Regions from separate parts of the Homo sapiens genome. Here region 2 is linked to region 1. The links come from fine-mapping of genetic effects on gene expression. A gene starts in region 1. The other region holds a variant in brackets. All regions are shown on one strand. Distances are between the middles of the regions. Region 1 holds the start of FMNL2 (formin like 2). Region 2 overlaps FMNL2 (formin like 2).

Region 1 (5,378 bases):
TAGGCAGATGAATGGATTTGGTTTACAGGCATAGTTTTCTGAATTCTGTTCTAAGTTGACAGTCTAGAAGAAGGTATATAATTCTCATCTCATAGTATGCATCCAATTATTAATAATTAGCTTCTTTGTTGTCTTCAGAAAATTCTGTATGGGAAGAAATCTTGCAGGCTTTGTTATAAAGAATATCAAACTGGCACAGTGGCTCACACCTGTAAACCCAACACTTTGGGAGGCCAAGGCAGGAGGATAGCTGGCAGCCAGGAATTTGAGACCAGCCTGGGCAACAGTGAGATCCCATCTCTCTTTCCCATGATTCTTCCCTTAGGGTAGGCGTTCTGCATGCATGGTGCTCTTCTTACCCTGGGGAATTGAGCACACACAGTGTGTTTAGGAAGTTGTATGCATGCCCATACAACTGGCTTTCTTTTTCTTTTCTTTTTTTTTCCAGTGGAGTGTACCTGGAAGATCATACTTCGCCATTTTTGTCTCTTAATAATTTTGCATTTTTCTTAGAGATGGAGTTTCTCCATGTTGCCAGGCTGGTCTTAAACTCCTGGGCTCAAGCAATACTCCTGCCTTGGCCTCCCAAACTGCTGGGCTTACAGGTGTGAGCCACTATGCCCGGCCCAGACATTTTCTTTTTTGCCAATATTTTGCACATGAGCTGTAACAAATCATATATAATAATAATAATAAATGGAATATACATTTTTAAATGATTGCTTGATTTTAATTCTGTGGGGAGGAAGAGTGCTACAATTAAGGTAATAGAAATGTCTTTTCTTTCCTTTCCCTCCATGCCGTCTCCCCGCAAAGAATTTCCTAAGATTTTGATGGATTCTTATAGAAATTGTACAAGCCTATGGAGTGTTTATTTCTCCTCTTAATAATCACAAATAACAACCAAATATTAGAGATTCCAAACATTGAAATGGCAGGAAAGTTCTTTTGGTTCATAGATTTGCACACTTTTTCCTTGGCTTCCCTCGAAGTGTGAGCTTATGAGAGAGACTAGATGTGATAAGACGTAAGGGGAGAAAAAGGTCTTGGTTACTGGCAGAAATATAGCCGCAGGGAGACATAAATGTAATCAAAAAGGCTTTCTCAACTGCAGAAAAGAATTCCAGCCTTTTTTATCCAGATGGGCAACCCTCTGGGTGGGCTGATTTTGTGAGTCAATCAGATCCAAAGTATATGTCTAGAGATTACAAGGAAATAAATACATTTGTGGGTCAGAAATGTTTCACCTGGTCCGAACTGCTTTCTTTCTCTCTCATTTTCATTAGTTTGGAGTGTGTGTGTATCTAAACCGCCCTGCTTTTCTCTCAGATCAGTAACACATTTGCTATTAACTTTGATACAACACTGCTTTAGAAATACAGGTTACAGTTATTCAGAATTTTAAGTTGAATTTATTTATACTGTCTCCATTCTTTAAAGACTAGAAGTGGTTTAATAGAACATACATGATGTATTTGTGTGTATTTGTGTCATATGCTTTTGGAAAAAGTCACTTGTCAATTCCACAAATAGTTCTTGGGCGTCTACTATGTTTAAAGTATCTTGAAGTTTATAAAGATGAATGAAATGTCCTTGATTGAATCTTGGTGTACTACCTTGTCCAGAAACACTTGCTATTTACTAAAAGGATAACAACCTTACCTGCATATCAAAATCACCTGGGGAGCTTGTTGAAAATACACCGGCCCAGGCTTCGGCTCTCAGCTTAGGGAGATTCTGATAATACGCAGAGCCCAAGGTGTGTGTAGTTTTAACAAAAAGCTTCCCAAGCGAATCTGATACACATCTAGGATTAAGAAACACTGCTTTAAACTAAGAAAGGACTAACTGCAGAAGTTCAGCCACAAGTCAACCAGATGTATGCCCTTAACATTCACATGAGCAGTTGGCTAAAGTCTCTTATAAGGCTATTTCTATTTCCGAGGTTTCAGAACGGGTAGTTATAGTCTGAAATACACCCCAGAGGACAGAGTCAGGTCCAATCTTTTCTGTAAGACACCTTGCTCAAGACTGCTGTGAAGGAATAAGAGAGCTGCAGCCAAAGATCATCCCAAAGTCTCCCAGAACACTCTATCATTATATCCATCTCACATGAAATATGGGTGTGTACATTTTTTCCTTCACTAGATTGGCAAGTATTCCAGCGCAGGGCAAATCTCTTTTTTCTCCCACCAAGGAACACAATATCCCATACATAATAGGTGTTTGACAGGTTTTTTTTTTAAATTGAATTGAATCCTTACCTAGCTCCTAGGGTCTGACTATATATACCCATAAATTATACATCTGTTTATAAAACATTTCAATCACACCAAAGAACATATATATGGAAGAAAGAACGATAAACAAGCACCCATGGACCCACCCCCCCGTTTATGAAACAGAACTTTGCCAGTGCTTTCGAAGTTCCTTACTGAACTAGATCTTTTAAAAACAGCAACGATTTTCTGAATTTTAATCAGAAGGCATGCATTCCTTCATTCATTGATTCGATTCCGTCATGGTCAGACCCGCCTACCAAGTGTCAACATGATATACACGATGTAAGTATTCCACTGTTGGGGTGAGGAGGGTCAAAAGTGACAATATGCTATCTCCAGAGACTACGGATCGCCTTTGCTGCAAATGGTCCCAACCCGGCCTGGCGCTCTAGAGCAGGCGTGGTTTCTGCGCGCGGACACTTTGGAGAGAAACTACGCGTCCCGGCAGTCCGCGGGGCGAGTGGGCGGAGCCGGGCCGGGGGCGGGGGCCGGGCGCCGGGCGAGAGGTGGCATTGTGTAGGGGAGCGCGGAGCTGCATTTGTCTGCTCCAGGTGCTAGCCAGGCAGGCGCAGCCGTGGCCGGCTAGGGCTGGAAGTGTCAGCGGCGGCCGCGGGCCCGGCAGAAGGCCGAGTAGGAGGGACCACGCGCCGGGGGCCGCGATCTCTGGCAGGGGGCGGTGTGCCAGCGGAGCACCATGCACATAGGCGCCCAGCGCCCCAACTACCCCTCCCGAGGAAAAGAGGCCGGGGCCGCGCTGGGGCGGCGGAGAGCATGAGGGAGGCCGGGGGGCGGCTCGGCTTGGAGCGCTGCTAGGGAGCGGTGCGCGCCGCACACCCGCCTGGGCGCGGCGGAGGGCGGGGAGCCGGGCAGGTCGCGCCTGCGGGCGGCAGCCGACCGCCGGGAGCTGTTCTGATTTCCGACGCGCACGCTAGGGGCCCGGAGCAGCCCCCGGCCCCGGCGCGCCGCCGACATGGGCAACGCAGGGAGCATGGATTCGCAGCAGACCGATTTCAGGGCGCACAACGTGCCTTTGAAGCTGCCGATGCCAGAGCCAGGTGAACTGGAGGAGCGATTTGCCATCGTGCTGGTAAGTGCGCGGCGGCGGTCGGGCGCGGGGACCCGGGGCCCCGGGCCGGGCGGCGCAGCTGACCCCCGCCCCTCCCCTTCACCCCGTGCCGGGAGCGAGCCTCCATTCCCGAGGGGGAGGCTCCCGCTTTCCCCTTTGTGGCCCCCCAGCACTCCTCTTCACCCCCCTGGCAGTCCCCCGCGCTCAGTCTCTCGGGGTCCCGGGATGGGGATGGGGGCTCAGGGCCGGCTGCCCAACCAGCCTCGAACCCATTGTCTGGCTGGAGAGGCACCTCACGGCGCGTGTGCCCGGGAGGTGCGGCGTGGGCGTGAAGAGAAGGTGGCGCGGGCTGGGAGGAGGAGGTGGCGAGCCGCTTAGGCTTTTTTTTTAAAAAAAACAAAACAAAACAAAACAAAACAAAACACCCTGAGCCCCTGCGGACCATCCCTCGGGCGGCCAGCCCGGGACCTGCGAAGTCCCCGGCAGATGGGGCGCATGTGGCCGGCCGCGGGCGCCGCGCCGGGCGGTGAGCGGAGGCGAACTTGGAGGGCTCACGTCGCGGCTTGGCCAAGGGGAGCTTCCCCGAAAGGGAAAGCGGAGACCCACAGCAGTGCGGCGCCCCGGCCCTTGGCGAGGAGCAGGGGCATCTGAAACCCAGGCCGGGGAGAACCTCAGCGCGTTCCCTCTAGACTTAAATCTTAAACCACAAAAATGTGGAGTTTTGCGGGGACGTGTTGCGAGCTGTCCTGACTGCACGGGCGACCCCTCCCCTCCTCTTGCACGCCCAGCCAGGTCCCCCGCTCCCTCCTGCATTCCGCTTCTCCCAGCTTTCCAGCTCCTCAAATCCAGGACTCTGAAAACTCCCCTCTTTCTCCCTTTCCTGCTGGGACAGTGTCTGGGCCCCTCCCAGCCGAGGCTTGTGCTGTGAGCTGCAGAGGGTGTGGCGGCTTGCCCCAGCCAGGATCTGGACTGCTGTTGGTCCCCCAGACTACCAGTTTTAGTGTCCCAGCCTCTTCTAAGGGATGTTGGGAGGGACACACACAGGCGAGATTGGGCTCATTCCTACTCCTGACACTTGGACACTTCTCTTTTCCTAGTTGGTTACCTCTAAACTCCACAAGACTAGGCAGCAAGGGAAACTCGTGATCCGGGCAGCCAACGATTGTGCCTGCCTGCGGGTTTTCTTTTCTTCTTTTGTTTTCATGAAAACTTAGAACTTTGGCAGAGGACTCGAGTTCTAGATCAAAAATCGGTTTTCTGAGGTGTGCTCAGCTACAGGACGTTCAAATTGCCTGCCTTCAGGCCTTGAAAAAGGAATGGTTTGGTATGGGAAGTGATGTTCTGGATGGCAGGTTAGCTGTGTGCTCTTTGGGAGAACTGAGCTCTCTCTCCCGCCACCTGGAAACTCTGGTGTGGCCGTCGGGGAGACAGATGAGGTTGCTTGTGTTGCTTTGCATCTCCTGTGATCTCCCACAGCTGCTCCCACCGTTGTGCAAGATGGGACACTGAAATGAAACGGCCTAGGCATAACTCTCAAGGCGGCCTGGGTGCATACTTGACCTGCTTTTCCAGAGACAAACGTTTTTCTTCAAAACCCTCTTCCTACTAGACATATGGTTCTTACCTCCTGGCTCTGGCTTTTTTTCCTCCTGGCTCTGGCTTTTTTGTTTTTCCATCCATGCTGTGGTGCTCTGTGTGTGTGTGTGTGTGTGTGTGTGTGTGTGTCTGAATACTTGTGGTGGAGGAGCCAGTGACACAGGGAAACCAGTGCAGCAGCCATAATAATAACAATAATGCAATTAAGTTCTGCTTGACTAGGATAGCATTTTTTTTTGCTTGAGCTTTCATTTACCCTGCTGATTAATAACACATGGTGTGAATTAATCTTTAGAAAAATAATGTCCCATCATTAACATGGTGGATTTGTGTTCTTGTTAAGGCTAGCAGTTGCAAATATAGTATTTAGACAATTATGATTGTACATCCCAAGCTTCTTGGGGCAGGGTTGTTGTGGCTACTTTTACACTACT
Region 2 (5,378 bases), 280 kb after region 1:
TGAGGGTTTTAATTTCTCCATATCCTTCCCAACTTTTGTTACTGTATTTCTTTTTTATTATAGCCATCTGAGTGGGTGCGAAGTGGTGTCTTATTGTGGTACCTCTGTGACTTTTGAATTTAAAAATAAGTATAAAATATTTTTAAAGAGGCCGGGCGCAGTGGGTCATGCCTGTAATCCCAGCACTTTGGGAGGCCCAGGCCGGCGGATCACGAGGTCAGGTGTTTGAGACCAGCCTGGCCAGCATGGTGAAACCCCATCTCTACTAAAAATACAAAAATTAGCTGGGCGTGGTGGCACCTGCCTGTAATCCCAGCTACTCGGGAGGCCGAGGCAGGAGAATCGCCTGAACCCAGGAGGCGGAGGTTGCAGTGAGCCGAGATCATGCCACTGCACTCCAGTCTGGGCGACAGAGCAAGACTCCATTTCCAAAAAAAACCATATATATATTTTTAAAGAACCAATGAAATGAAGGAAAAGGAAATCGGTAAGTGAGCCTTTTTTATGAAATTGAAAGCACATGTCTGCAGTTAAACTGAGAAAAAAGTTTGGAGCCCATCTAACCCCTTGACAATTTCATTTCAGGTGGCTTCTATGCAGTTTATTAATATTGTAGTCCATTCAGTAGAAGATATGAATTTCAGAGTTCACCTGCAGTATGAATTTACCAAATTAGGCCTGGACGAATACTTGGACGTGAGTATAGCTGTGACCTTTGGCTCCAATATAAGAATTGACTTATTATTGCCTGCCCTCAAAGGTACGCTTCCATAGCAGCTAAAGAATGCCTAAAGCTCTATGCAGTCAACTACTGTAGTGCTAGTTAAAGGGAACTGAGCTGAGTGATGTACTCTGCCAGAGATGCTGGATTCTTGCAGGGCTCCTGGGATCTCAGGTCATCTTCTGCTAGCAGCCTTTTAGTACGGGAGTCAGATAACCTCTTGCAGCCTTGCTGCAGCTTTCCTCTCCTTTTGAGCTTCATCTGGGTCAAGTCTCATTGCATCCTTCATCTGGGCTATTGGGCAATTTGTGTTCTTGGTTACTCCGGGGACCCCATCTGGGCAGAGAAAGTCAAGCCAAGACTGTAGAGTGATGAGTCAGTGCTTAGAGCATAAAAAAAAAATAATGAGGAAATGGACACCAGAGACTTCCTCCTGAAGCTGCTAAATTCTGCTTCAAGTGTTTGTGGCTTTAGAAGTTCCACTTTTAGTTCTTAGGAGAAGGAGGTTTAAAGTTTCCCTTTTTCTCACTCCCTTGCAGAAGAGTTTAGCCAGTTCCCTGAAGTTCTTCAGTTAAGAAACAGAAACTTGTGAAAATCAGAAATGGTCTTGAAAAGGCTGATGGCTCACACCTGTAATTCCAGCACTTTGGGAGGCTGAGGTGGAGGATCACTTGAGCCTAGGAGTTCAAGACCAGGCTAGGCAACATAGTGAGACCCCATCTATACAAAACACCAAAAAATTAGCCAGGTGTGGTGGTATGTGCCCGTGGCCCCAGCTGCTTGGGAAGCTGAAGTGGGGGGATCATTGGAGTCCAGGATTTCTAGGCTGCAACAAGCTGTGATTGCACCACTGCACTCCAGCTTGGGTGGCAGAGCGAGACCCTGTGTCTAAAACGGAAAAGAAGTGGACCTGAGGATCCAGGCAGTTTTGTTTTCCCTTTTGTATAGGAATGGTCTAGTGATAGAGCAAGAATTGTTGACCTCAATTTCCTTCCTTTTTTTTGAGACAGGGTTTCACTTTGTCAACCAGGCTGGAGTGCAGTGGTGCAATCTTGGCTCACTGCAACCTCTGCTTCCTGGGTTCAAGCGATTCTCATGCCTCAGCCTCCTGAATAGCTGGGATTACAGGCACTATGCCTGGCTAATTTTTGTATTTTTAGTAGAGACTGGGTTTCACCATGTTGGCTAGGCTAGTCTCATACTCCTGCCTCAAGTAATGCACCCAGCCGGTGACCTGAATTTCAAGCCTGTTTCCAGCTGTGAAGAATATAGAAGTACTTCCTTTGGGCATCTCAGGAATTCAGTTGCCCATCTTTGTTAGAGATAAACCCAAGGGATTGCACAGACTGTACCCTCAGTTTATTAGGAGACGGAATCACAGAGGTGGTTACTCTCAACCTGAAGGCCTTGCT[T/C]CCTAGACTGGCTGGGCTGCCCTTGAATAGATGGGCCTACTGTTGTCTAAAGACTACTCAGGGAGAGGCGTAATAGATTTCCATTAAAATGTTGTTTGAATTGCTTTCCTTTTTATTTAAAGGCTCATTTATATCACTGGCAGAATATTGTACAGAAAGACTCTTTCTTACTTTGAGATCAAGGTTTGTCTATCCCTTTTTCTCCTATGCTCTAAAAGTATCAGTATTTGAACAAAAATTGGATGTATAAATTCCTAGCGGTGTTTTGGGTTTGGTTTTGTGGTGTCTGAGCAGAGCTTGTTTATGCTGTAGAATATAACGGCAGGTACCCACTTATCACTGAACACCTGTTATTCATTGTGAATCTCATGAAAAATCCCATTAAGCTGCTTCTCCTTTTGTTCTAGCCTTTGCCCTTATTTAGAAGCCATTCTCACTTGTGACTCATAAATGAAAACAGAACACTCTCTCTTCAGAATAAGCTGTATTGTAGAATTCCAGATTAAACCTAGGGGAAAATCCATTTTTCTGAAAATTTATGTAGAGTGGAATTTCTCTTAAAAATGTAAGATTTTTTGTCAAAACTCTGTATTTCTTTAACTTCATCATGTGTTGACTCTGGAACCTAATAGAGGTGGTTAGAAGAGTAATGTAAATGTATGCTATATAAATGCTTCACTAGTTTACAAAAACCCAGCCTTGTAAGTAGCCATTGATTTGTTCAATAAATGTTGATTGGCATCATCCATGCACCAGGTATTATTCTAATCACTCATCTGTTCCCCAGGGAAAGTCATGACTTATGTTACTTGTAGGGAAGATTCACTGATTTATTTGACCTCTAATTTCCAGAGCTAGCTGAGTCCCTGCAGGATGCCTAGTTTGGGAGGCAGTGAATTGGGGAAAGCTTTCTGATCTGCCTTGGGGAGCCCTGAGCTGTTCATGCTGTATACTGACTTAGGGAGGGATGTGTGGAGGTTGGGCTCTAGCAATTTGTGCTAAAATAATCCCCAAGGCTAAGTATAAACTCTGTCAGTGTCTGCCCCACCTCTCGCCTAACCTTCTTCCCCTACTGGAACCACTGTAACTAACCAGGTAAGATACCAAACACTCCAGTCTTTTCCACTACACAGATACCCCTCAGGTTTTATGTGGCCATGACTATAACCTGTTAAAGCTGCTTTTAATTTTTCTGTTGTCCCAATTTCATGTATATCAAAATGTTTTACATAGGAATATAACTACATGGGGCAGTAAGGATTTGGGGGAAAATGTGTGTGCATTTGGGAGAGCGTATTCACCCGAAAGTCATCTGATGATACTGCTTAGGCAGTCACTCCATAATTCTCTTAAGGAAGATGACATGTTAAGCTCTCTTGGAAAGGGCTGGACTATTTGTCGAAAAGAAAACACATAGACTGGCTGGGTGTGGTGGCTCACGCCTGTAATCCCAGCACTTTGGGAGGCTGAGCCGGGTGGATCACGAGGTCAGGAGATCGAGACCATCCTGGCCAACAGGGTGAAACCCCGTCTCTACTAAAAATACAAAAATTAGCTGGGTGTGGTGGCGCGTGCCTGTAATCCCAGCTACTTGGGAGGCTGAGACACGAGAATCGCTTGAACCCAGGAGGTGAAGGTTGCAGTGAGCTGAAATCATACCATTCCACTCCAGCCTGGGTGACAGAGTGAAACTCCATCTCAAAACAAAACAAAACAAAACAAAAAACAAAAAAGACAGACTCTTAGGAAATGATGTTCTATTTCCATAGATGAGCTAACACCACGTTCTCTCCTATTCTGGTTTTTAGAAGCTGAAACACACTGAGAGTGACAAGCTTCAAGTCCAGATCCAGGCTTACCTGGACAATGTTTTTGATGTAGGAGCTCTACTGGAAGATGCTGAAACTAAGAATGCTGCCTTGGAGAGGGTGGAAGAACTGGAAGAAAACATTTCTCATGTAACTATATCTCAGAAAAGGAAAAATTGCTTACATTTCAGCTGGTTGCAAAGCAGAATTAATGTCAGCTTTTATGGTGGTAAATTTAAGGATTTGGAGTATAGGAATAGGCCATACCCTGCAAGAGAGAGCTATCAGAAGCTGTTCTGTGTTTTTTCCAAAAAGCAGATGTGTTATGTAAAATGAAATAGAATCTGTTGCTTTGCTTTAGCTCACTTACCTGCTCAGTTTCTGCTGAGGTGCATTTCCTGGCAGTCTTGCTTACAGGCTCAAGCAGAGTGGGGGTGTTTGATGATTGGCATTACGTAAATGATTAGAGGGAAATTAAATATGAGAATTTGGCCTGAGGCGAAGAGGTATCTTCTTATCAACTATGTCCACACAAACCCATGGACAGGATTAGCTGGTGTCTCTGTGATGCATGTCTGAACATTCCTGTCTTACGGTACTCAAATTCTTAATAGAGTCATTTCAACAATAGGCATTTTCAAGGACATCGGTGTGCTTTCTCATATATCCTGTTCTTTGAAGAATGTCCTCAGTATCGTTGTCAGCTCTATCACAGGACAGGGTCTCATTTTTCTTTGAGGGATTTTTCTTGCCATAGACTGATTTGAATATGACTCTAAGGGCCTTTAGAGATTATTTGTTCATTCATTAACCACATATTTCAGTAGTAAAAGAATTAACAGAAAAATGGTGCTTCTCAAAAACCCAAGCATTATGAAGACCAAATTCTTTTGGTGAGTCTGGTGAGCACTTTCCTTGATTATGAAATGAAGTGTCTCCTTTTGGAGGATTATTATTTTCTCCTTTGAACAGTTCATTTATTTTTCTCCACATGTTTTTTAAAGAGTGCTGCATATGCTCAGTTTCCTTCACCTTTCCCCATCACTGTGAAAATGGGTCTCTTCATGGCTGTGGGTAAGCCAAGTTGGTGAGCCAAAAACCCTCCCTTTAAAAGTGCCGCTATGACCCAGCTGGCATCCGCTTAAAAAGAGAATTTTACAGGCCCAGTATATCTTCCCTTAGAAGATTTGTGTTATATGCTGAACCCAATCAGTGTAAATCTCCACTCTTCCTCCTTACCTTGCCTCCCTGGTTTTCTTTACTTGTAATGAATTTAAAGGAGATGTTAGAAATCAGAAGTTGCTCAGTGTTAGAGCCCTATGTGAAAAGCAGCTGTTTAACACATGGCTCACCCTGTCTTTCTCCTGAAGCCTCAGCCAACATTGCATGACCATACTTACATGTCCACTTTTGTAGCAGCAATCTATTTGAATGGCC

What was found. PIP is the estimated chance that this variant, and not a neighbour inherited with it, causes the effect.
Region 2: its variant is fine-mapped to the expression of FMNL2 in whole blood (INTERVAL, PIP 0.98).

What each region holds. Positions count from the first base shown.
Region 1 is chr2:152,332,352-152,337,729 of GRCh38, forward strand. It overlaps FMNL2 (formin like 2), which reads left to right and starts at 2,823. Exons shown (of 26, transcript NM_052905.4): 1 at 2,823-3,369. The coding sequence starts at 3,253. RefSeq lists silencers at 2,623-3,272, 3,783-3,882.
Region 2 is chr2:152,610,910-152,616,287 of GRCh38, forward strand. FMNL2 (formin like 2) reads left to right here. Exons shown (of 26, transcript NM_052905.4): 11 at 586-696; 12 at 3,942-4,091. Among named protein-coding and RNA genes, the nearest start is that of PRPF40A, 100 kb to the right of the region's middle. RefSeq lists an enhancer at 1,393-1,472. The variant T/C (reference allele first, on the strand shown) is at 2,134.